Regions from separate parts of the Homo sapiens genome. Here region 1 is linked to region 2. The links come from fine-mapping of genetic effects on gene expression. A gene starts in region 2. The other region holds a variant in brackets. All regions are shown on one strand. Distances are from middle to middle.

Evidence for each region. PIP is the estimated chance that this variant, and not a neighbour inherited with it, causes the effect. A credible set is the group of variants that fine-mapping cannot tell apart.
Region 1: its variant is the best candidate, but not a certain one, in a credible set for the expression of JAK3 in whole blood (INTERVAL, PIP 0.83).

What each region holds. Positions count from the first base shown.
Region 1 is chr19:17,824,888-17,828,887 of GRCh38, reverse strand. JAK3 (Janus kinase 3) reads left to right here. Exons shown (of 24, transcript NM_000215.4): 24 at 1,978-4,000. The coding sequence ends at 2,145. Among named protein-coding and RNA genes, the nearest start is that of INSL3, 5.4 kb to the right of the region's middle. The variant CTCTG/G (reference allele first, on the strand shown) is at 2,369.
Region 2 is chr19:17,846,135-17,850,648 of GRCh38, reverse strand. It overlaps JAK3 (Janus kinase 3), which reads left to right and starts at 2,667. Exons shown (of 24, transcript NM_000215.4): 1 at 2,667-2,703.

The DNA.
Region 1 (4,000 bases), 22 kb after region 2:
CCACCACATCCCACCCTCTCATGGTTTATAATCATATAATCATAACCTTTGTGGAAGTGTCTGACATGCAGTTGGTCATTGATAAATTAATTTGCTCAGGCCAAAAACATTTATTGAGTGCCAACTGTGTGCCAGGACTTGTTGGGTGCTGAAGACCCTGTCCTCCCAGTAACTAGCAAAATCTGATAAGAACATTCTAGGCTGGGCACGATGGCTCATGCCTATAATCCCAACACTTTGGGAGGCTGAGGCAGAAGGATCACTGGAGCCCAGGAGTTCAAGACCAGCCTGGGCAACGTAGTGAGACCTTGTCTCTACAAACAATACAAGCAATAGCCGGTGTGGTGACATGCACCTGTGGTTTCAGCTACTAGGGAGGCTGAGGCAGGAGGATCACTGGAACCCAGGAGTTCAAGACCAGCCTGGGCAACATAGTGAGACCTTGTCTCTACAAACAATACAAGCAATAGCCGGTGTGGTGACATGCACCTGTGGTTTCAGCTACCAGGGAGGCTGAGGCAGGAGGATTGCTTGAGCCCAGGAGGTTAAGGCTGCAGTGAGCCATTATTGTACCACTGCACTCCAGCCTGGACAACAGAGTGACACCCTGTCTCAAAACAAAACAAAACAAAACAAAACAAAACAAAACAAAACAAAACAAAGACAAAATTATGGTAGTGATAAGTGCCTTGAAAGAGATGAACAGAGGGAAATGGTGGGGTGGGGGTGGTCAAAGAGGGCCTCTTACGGGGCCGACGCTGGAAGGAGGAGGAGCCTACCCATGAGTAAAGCTAGGAGAAGAAATTTCCAGTGGAGGACACGGAAGGGAAAAAGGCCTTGGGGAGGTAATGAGCTGGGTGCCTTTAAGCACCAGTGCGATGGAGGCAGATGTGACTGCCCGGAACAAATGAGGGAAGGAGGGATGGAGATGAGCGAAGGAGGGCATCAGGGAGAGGTGGTGTTTTTTTGTTGTTTTTTTTTTTTTGAGACGTGGTTTTGCTCTTGTTGGCCAGGCTGGAGTGCAATGGCGCAATCTCGGCTCACCACAACTTCCGCCTCCCAGGTTCAAGCAATTCTCCTGCCTTAGACTCCCGAGTAGCTGGGATTACAGGCACACGCCACCTGTAATTTTTTTTTTTTTTTTTTTTTTTTTTTTTTTTTTTTTTTTTTAGTTAAGATGGGGTTTCTCCATGTTGGTCAGGGTAGTCTCGAAAGGAGAAGTGTGTTGTAAAATCCATAAGGGCTGGGCGCGGTGGCTCACACCTGTAATCCCAGCCCTTTAGGAGGCCGAGGTGGGTGGATTACATGAGGTCAGGAGTTCAAGACCAGCCTGACCAACATGGTGAAACCCCGTCTCTACTAAAAATACAGACTTAGCCAGGTGTGGCGGTGTGTGCATGTAATCCCAGCTACTTGGGAGGCTGAGGCAGGAGAATCGCTTGAACCCAGGAGGCAGGGTTTGCAGTGAGCCGAGATCGCACCACTGCATTCCAGCCTGGGCAACAAGAGCGAAACTTTATCTCAAATAAATAAATAAGTAAGATCCATAGGGAGCCATGGGAGTTTTTGGAGCAGAGATGGGATGGAATTTAATTTGTGTTTTAAAACTGAATGAGTGCGGTGGCTCATGCCTATAATCCCAGCACTTTGGGAGGCCAAGACAGGTGGATCACCTGAGATCAGGAATTTGAGACCAACCTGGCCAACATGGTGAAACCCTGTCTCTACTCAAAATACAAAATTAGCCAGGCGTGGTGGCACGTGCCTATAATCCCAGCTACTCAGGAGGCTGAGGCAGGATAATTGCTTGAACCCGGGAGGCGGAGGTTGCAGTGAGCCGAGATCATGCCATTGCACTCCAGCCTGGACAACAGAGCTAGACTCCGTCTCAAAAAAACAAAAACAAATACGCTGAATGGGAGTTGTGTCCTTTGGACTGCTCAGGCACGACCCCATTATCTGTCCCCCGCCCCTCAGGTTCACGAGCTCATGAAGCTGTGCTGGGCCCCTAGCCCACAGGACCGGCCATCATTCAGCGCCCTGGGCCCCCAGCTGGACATGCTGTGGAGCGGAAGCCGGGGGTGTGAGACTCATGCCTTCACTGCTCACCCAGAGGGCAAACACCACTCCCTGTCCTTTTCATAGCTCCTGCCCGCAGACCTCTGGATTAGGTCTCTGTTGACTGGCTGTGTGACCTTAGGCCCGGAGCTGCCCCTCTCTGGGCCTCAGAGGCCTTATGAGGGTCCTCTACTTCAGGAACACCCCCATGACATTGCATTTGGGGGGGCTCCCGTGGCCTGTAGAATAGCCTGTGGCCTTTGCAATTTGTTAAGGTTCAAGACAGATGGGCATATGTGTCAGTGGGGCT[CTCTG/G]AGTCCTGGCCCAAAGAAGCAAGGAACCAAATTTAAGACTCTCGCATCTTCCCAACCCCTTAAGCCCTGGCCCCCTGAGTTTCCTTTTCTGTCTCTCTCTTTTTATTTTTTTTATTTTTATTTTTATTTTTGAGACAGAGCCTCGCTCTGTTACCCAGGGTGGAGTGCAGTGGTGCGATCTCGGCTCAGTGCAACCTCTGCTTCCCAGGTTCAAGCGATTCTCCTGCCTCAGCCTCCCGAGTAGCTGGGATTACAGGTGTGCACCACCACACCCGGCTAATTTTTTTTATTTTTAATAGAGATGAGGTTTCACCATGATGGCCAGGCTGATCTCGAACTCCTAACCTCAAGTGATCCTCCCACCTCAGCCTCCCAAAGTGTTGGAATAATAGGCATGAGCCACTGCACCCAGGCTTTTTTTTTTTTAAATTTATTATTATTATTTTTAAGAGACAGGATCTTGCTACGTTGCCCAGGCTGGTCTTGAACTCCTGGGCTACAGTGATCCTCCTGCCTTATCCTCCTAAATAGCTGGGACTACAGCACCTAGTTTTGAGTTTCCTGTCTTATTTCCAATGGGGACATTCATGTAGCTTTTTTTTTTTTTTTTTTTTTGAGACGGAGTCTCGCTCTGTCGCCCAGGCTGGAGTACAGTGGCGCAATCTAGGCTCACTGCAAGCTCCGCCTCCTGGGTTCACACCATTCTCTCGCCTCAGCCTCCCAAGTAGCTGGGACTACAGGCGCCCGCCACCACACCCGGCTAATTTTTTGTATTTTTAGTAGAGACGGGGTTTCACCTTGTTAGCCAGGATGGTTTCCATCTCCTGACCTCGTGATCTGCCCGTCTCGGCCTCCCAAAGTGCTGGGATTACAGGCATGAGCCACTGCGCCCGGCCCTCATGTAGCTTTAAATGTATGATCTGACTTCTGCTCCCCGATCTCTGTTTCTCTGGAGGAAGCCAAGGACAAGAGCAGTTGCTGTGGCTGGGACTCTGCCTTTTAGGGGAGCCCGTGTATCTCTTTGGGATCCTGAAAGGGGGCAGGAAAGGCTGGGGTCCCAGTCCACCCTAATGGTATCTGAGTGTCCTAGGGCTTCAGTTTTCCCACCTGTCCAATGGGACCCTTTCTGTCCTCACCCTACAAGGGGCACAAAGGGATGACACCAAACCTGGCAGGAACTTTTCACGCAATCAAGGGAAGGAAAGGCATTCCTGGCAGAGGGAACAGCATGCCAAGCGTGAGAAGGCTCAGAGTAAGGAGGTTAAGAGCCCAAGTATTGGAGCCTACAGTTTTGCCCCTTCCATGCAGTGTGACAGTGGGCAAGTTCCTTTCCCTCTCTGGGTCTCAGTTCTGTCCCCTGCAAAATGGTCAGAGCTTACCCCTTGGCTGTGCAGGGTCAACTTTCTGACTGGTGAGAGGGATTCTCATGCAGGTTAAGCTTCTGCTGCTCCTCCTCACCTGCAAAGCTTTTCTGCCACTTTTGCCTCCTTGGAAAACTCTTATCCATCTCTCAAAACTCCAGCTACCACATCCTTGCAGCCTTCCCTCATATACCCCCACTACTACTGTAGCCCTGTCCTTCCCTCCAGCCCCACTCTGGCCCTGGGGCTGGGGAAGTGTCTGTGTCC
Region 2 (4,514 bases):
TGGCACTTCCTGCCGCAGGTCAGCTGTGGCTCCACTAAGCTCCACTAAGCTGAGGACATAATCTATATCTCTTTCCCTTGACCCACGCGGCCCTACCCACGCCATCAAATGAGTCTCAGCCCCCCGTGTCCCTGACATCCTGCTCTTCTCAGGAACACTGTGAATTCGTGAAGCCTCCAGGCCTTTGCCTGGGCTGTTCTGCCTGCCAGAACTGCCCACACTCCCACATTCTCAGGTCACTCTCTGGCTAGTCCCACTTGTTGTTGGATTTCAGAATCAAAGCCACCTCCTCCAGGAAGCCCTCCCAGATCCAGTCATCTCTCTTAGCAGACCGGTCCCAGGGGCAACTGATATAATTATTGGGCAATAGCTTGTTTATTGCCATCTCCCCTGCTGGACTGTCAGCTCCCCTGGACAGGGATTGGGTCTGCATTGTCCCCGATTCCCTGCACACAGGCTGTGTCCAATAAGCCTCTGGCTGATTGAACAGTTAAGATCAACAAAATACTTACCAAACCATTTTGTGTTAAGACTTGTGATGGTGATACAGAGATGAAAAGTCTTTTTTTTTTTTTTTTTGAGACGGGATCTCACTCCCATTGCCCAGGCTGGAGTGCAGTGGCATGACCACAGCTAACTGCAGCCTCAACTTCCTGGGCTCAGGTGATCCTCCCACCTCAGCCTCCCCTAGTAGCTGGGACTACAGGCACATGCCACCACATCCAGCTTATTATTTTGTTGTTGTTGTATTTTTTGTAGAGACAGGGTTTCACCATGTTGCCCAGGCTGGTCTCGAACACCTGGGCTCAAGCCATCCTCCTGCCTGAGCCTCCCAAAGTGCTGAGATTACAGGTGTGAGCCACTGTTCTTGGCCACAACTTCTTAAATCTATTCCTTTTTTTTTTTTTGAGACAGAGTATTGCTCCGTCGCCCAGGCTGGAGTGCGGTGGCACAATCTCAGCTCACTACAACCTCCGCCTGCCTCCTGGGTTCCAGTGATTCTCCTGCCTCAGCCTCCCAAGTAGCTGGGATTACAGGCACATGCCACCACGCCCAGCTAATTTTTATATTTTTAGTAGAGATGGGGTTTCACCATGTTGGCCAGGCTGGTCTCGAACTCCTAGGCTCAAGCAATCTTCCCACCTGGGCCTTCCAAAGTGCTGGAATTACAGATGTGAGCCACTGTACCCGGTCACCACTTCGTCAGTCTATTCCTGAAGCTCTACTTCCGGGGCTCTGATCCTATTATCCTAAGAACACTGGCCCAAGTCTCTGCATTTGGATGCTGCCCGGGCCTTCTGCCTCTTCTATTTATAACAGCTCCTACTTCCAACTCTCCTGTGGCTCCAGATTATGCTCCAGGCAAAACCCACCCTTCTCCCAAAGACCCTGATCCCCCTGTCCCCCCACGATCTTGCCCCTGTTGACCGCCCTGCAGTCCCCTTCCCCCTCATCTCACCCCTGCCCCTGGCCTCCTGACTGCTCTTCAAGCTGCTAAGATCACTGCCCTCTCAAGGTCTTTGCCCATCCTGTGCCCTCCTCCTGGAGCACCCTTTCCCTGGCCAGCTCCCTGTCCTGCCTCGGGTCCAAGTTCCAGTCTGTGCCTGTCCTGACACCCTGGCTTTCTTTGTTGTCTGCGATGATTTGGCTCCTTCATTTGCTCATTGTCTCAGCGCCAGATCACAAGTTCCAAGAGGCCAGGCCGGATCCACCTGGTTTTTTAGGGCTGGGCCCAGGGCACCACAGGCAGAAATGGGTCATTATCTCTCCCTGAGTCTTTTCTTTTTTTTTTAAACGAAGTCCCGCTCTGTTGCCAGGCTGGAGTGCAGTGGCGCCATCTCGTCTCACTGTAACATCCGCCTCCTAGATTCAAGCAATCCTCCCACCTCAGCCTCCTGAGTAGCTAGGATTACAGGCATCACCAGGCCTGGCTAATTTTCCTGTTTTTAGTAGAGACAGGGTTTCATCATGTTGGCCAGGCTGGTCTCAAACTCCTGACTTCAAGTGATCCGCCCGCCTCAGCCTCCCAAAGTGCTGCGATTACAGGCCACCACGCCTGGCTAATTTTTGTATTTTTAGTAGAGACGGAGTTTCGCCATGTTGGCTAGGCTGGTCTCAAACTCCTGACCTCAAGTAATCGCCCGCCTCAGTCTCCCAAAGTGCTGGGATGACAGGCGTGAGCCACTGCGCCCAGCGTCTCCCTGAGTCTTAAGGGAGAAATACCTCAAAGAAGAACTTGACCTTCCTCTGGGGCAACTTCCCTGCTTCCCTCCTGGGCAAATCCAGCCAGGTTTCCTTCCCTGGGTGCAAAATTAGTTCCACTGGGTGCCCAACTCACACATGCTACAGATGGGTAAACTGAGGCAATAAGGGCCGGGCCAGAGCCCCACTTAACAAGTGGGTCTAGAGTCGGCTGAGCCCCTGGTGTGACCCAGACCCTTCTCTGTGCTATCATCAGTTCCTTTGGCTTAGGGGTCTCCAGCAGCCTGTCTGAACGGGGCGGCTGATGCAGAGGCTTCCGGAACTTTCTGCCCCTCCTTGCCCGCCTCCCCGCCCCCAGCTCCCGCAGGGCCCTGACTTTCGGTAAATGACAGTGGCTCAGGAAACCAAGGGGCCCACACAGGAAGGAGCCGAGTGGGACTTTCCTCTCGCTGCCTCCCGGCTCTGCCCGCCCTTCGAAAGTCCAGGGTCCCTGCCCGCTAGGTAAGAGCTGGCGATGCCGCAGGGCTCGGCCCAGACACTGGGGGAGGATGGTGGTGGCGGGGGATGGCTGGGCTGGGGCAGGGTGCTGCCAGGGCAAAGGCTAGCTCGCCTTCCAGGCCTCGGAGGAAAGCTGCGAGGCAGACGTGAGCCGAGACTCGCATCCTCCGATCGCTCGCTTCTCTGGGCTTCGGCTTTGACTAAGGCCGGGAGATGCCTGCCTTGCGGACCTGGAGGAGTCATTGCGCATGCGCGACGGGGGCTGCGGGGTTGGGGGTGGGGAGGAGGGATTGGGAAGGAGGGATTGGGGGGCGGAGTTCCCAGCCCCTACCCTCCAGGCCTTCCCGGTCCAGACACAGGGTACCCGACCATACCAGGATGCAGAACGTTGAGGATTATAAACAGGGGATGCCGAGGCGGGAGGATAGCTTGAGGCCAGGAGTTCAAGGCCAGCCTGGGCAACATAGCCAGACCTCCATTTCTACAAACATTTTTAAAAAACCAAAAAAACTATGGCGTTTTCTGGGACCAAACATCACCTCTGACTTTTCATTTTTTTTTGTTACAGTATTACAGAATAATAATATTCTGTTAAGATTTTTTTGTTGTTTTGGAGATGGGAGTCTTGCTATGTTGTTCAGGCAGGTCTCTAACCCCTGGCCTCAAGCTATCCTGCTGCCTCAGCCCCCTGAGTAGCTGGGATTGCAGTGGGGCGCCACTGCCACTGAAGCCTTATTTTAAACTCGACTGGGGCTGGGCACAGTGGCTCATGCCTTTAATCCCAACACTTTGGGAGGCTGAGGCCAGCGGATCACTGGAGGTCAGGAGTTCGAGATCAGCCTGGTCAACATGGTGAAACCCTATCTCTACTAAAAACACAAAAATTAGCCAGGTTTGGTGGCGGGTGCCTGTAATTCCAGCTACTCAGGAGGCTGAGGCAGGAGAATCGCTTGAACCTGGGAGGTGGAGTTTGCAGTGAGCCGAGATCATGCCACTGCACTCCAGCCTGGGAGACAGAACAAGAATCCGTCCTCCCCCCTACAAAATAAATAAATAAATAAAAAGGCTGGGCAATGTGGCTCACGTGTGTAATCACAGCACTTTGGGAGGCCAAGGCAGGCGAATCACCTGAGGCCAGGAGTTTGAGACCAGCCTGGCCAACATGGTGAAACTCCGTCTCTACTAAAAATACAAAAATTAGCTGGGCGCTGTGGTGCGCGCCTGTAATCCCAGCCACTTGGGAAGCTGAGGCATGAGAATCGCTTGAACCCAGGAGGCAGAGGCTACAGTGAGCCAAGATCGTGCGACTGCACTCCAGCCTGGGTGACAGTGCGAGACTCCGTCTCAAAAAAACAAACAAACAAACCAAAAAACTTGATTGGCTGATGTTGAGGGGACGATAGAGAGGCTATGGTGTGTGATTTTATTTCTATAAAGGGCAAAACTAGACATCAATCTCTCTGTGGGAGAGATGGGGCTCCTCCAAGGTTCCCGGGACTAGGAATGTGCTCATTCTTGGTCTGGGCATCGGTGACATCAAAGTGTCCCTTTGGTAAGGTTCTTTCCCCCACAAGACTTCCCTTCCCACAGTAACCACCACACCGCTGTGCCAATTGCCCTTCCTGTTTGGTTTAACAGGCGTTTGTTGATCGCTTACCGGCACATCATCAAGAAATATACAAATTAATGCACATTAATTGAGTTGACACTTTAGGCCTGGATTGCGCTCAGCAGACCACCTCAATGAGGATGCTGGGGAGTCAGCCCATTTCACAGCTGCGAAAGCTGAGTCCTAGGGGTCCTAGTCCTCTGAT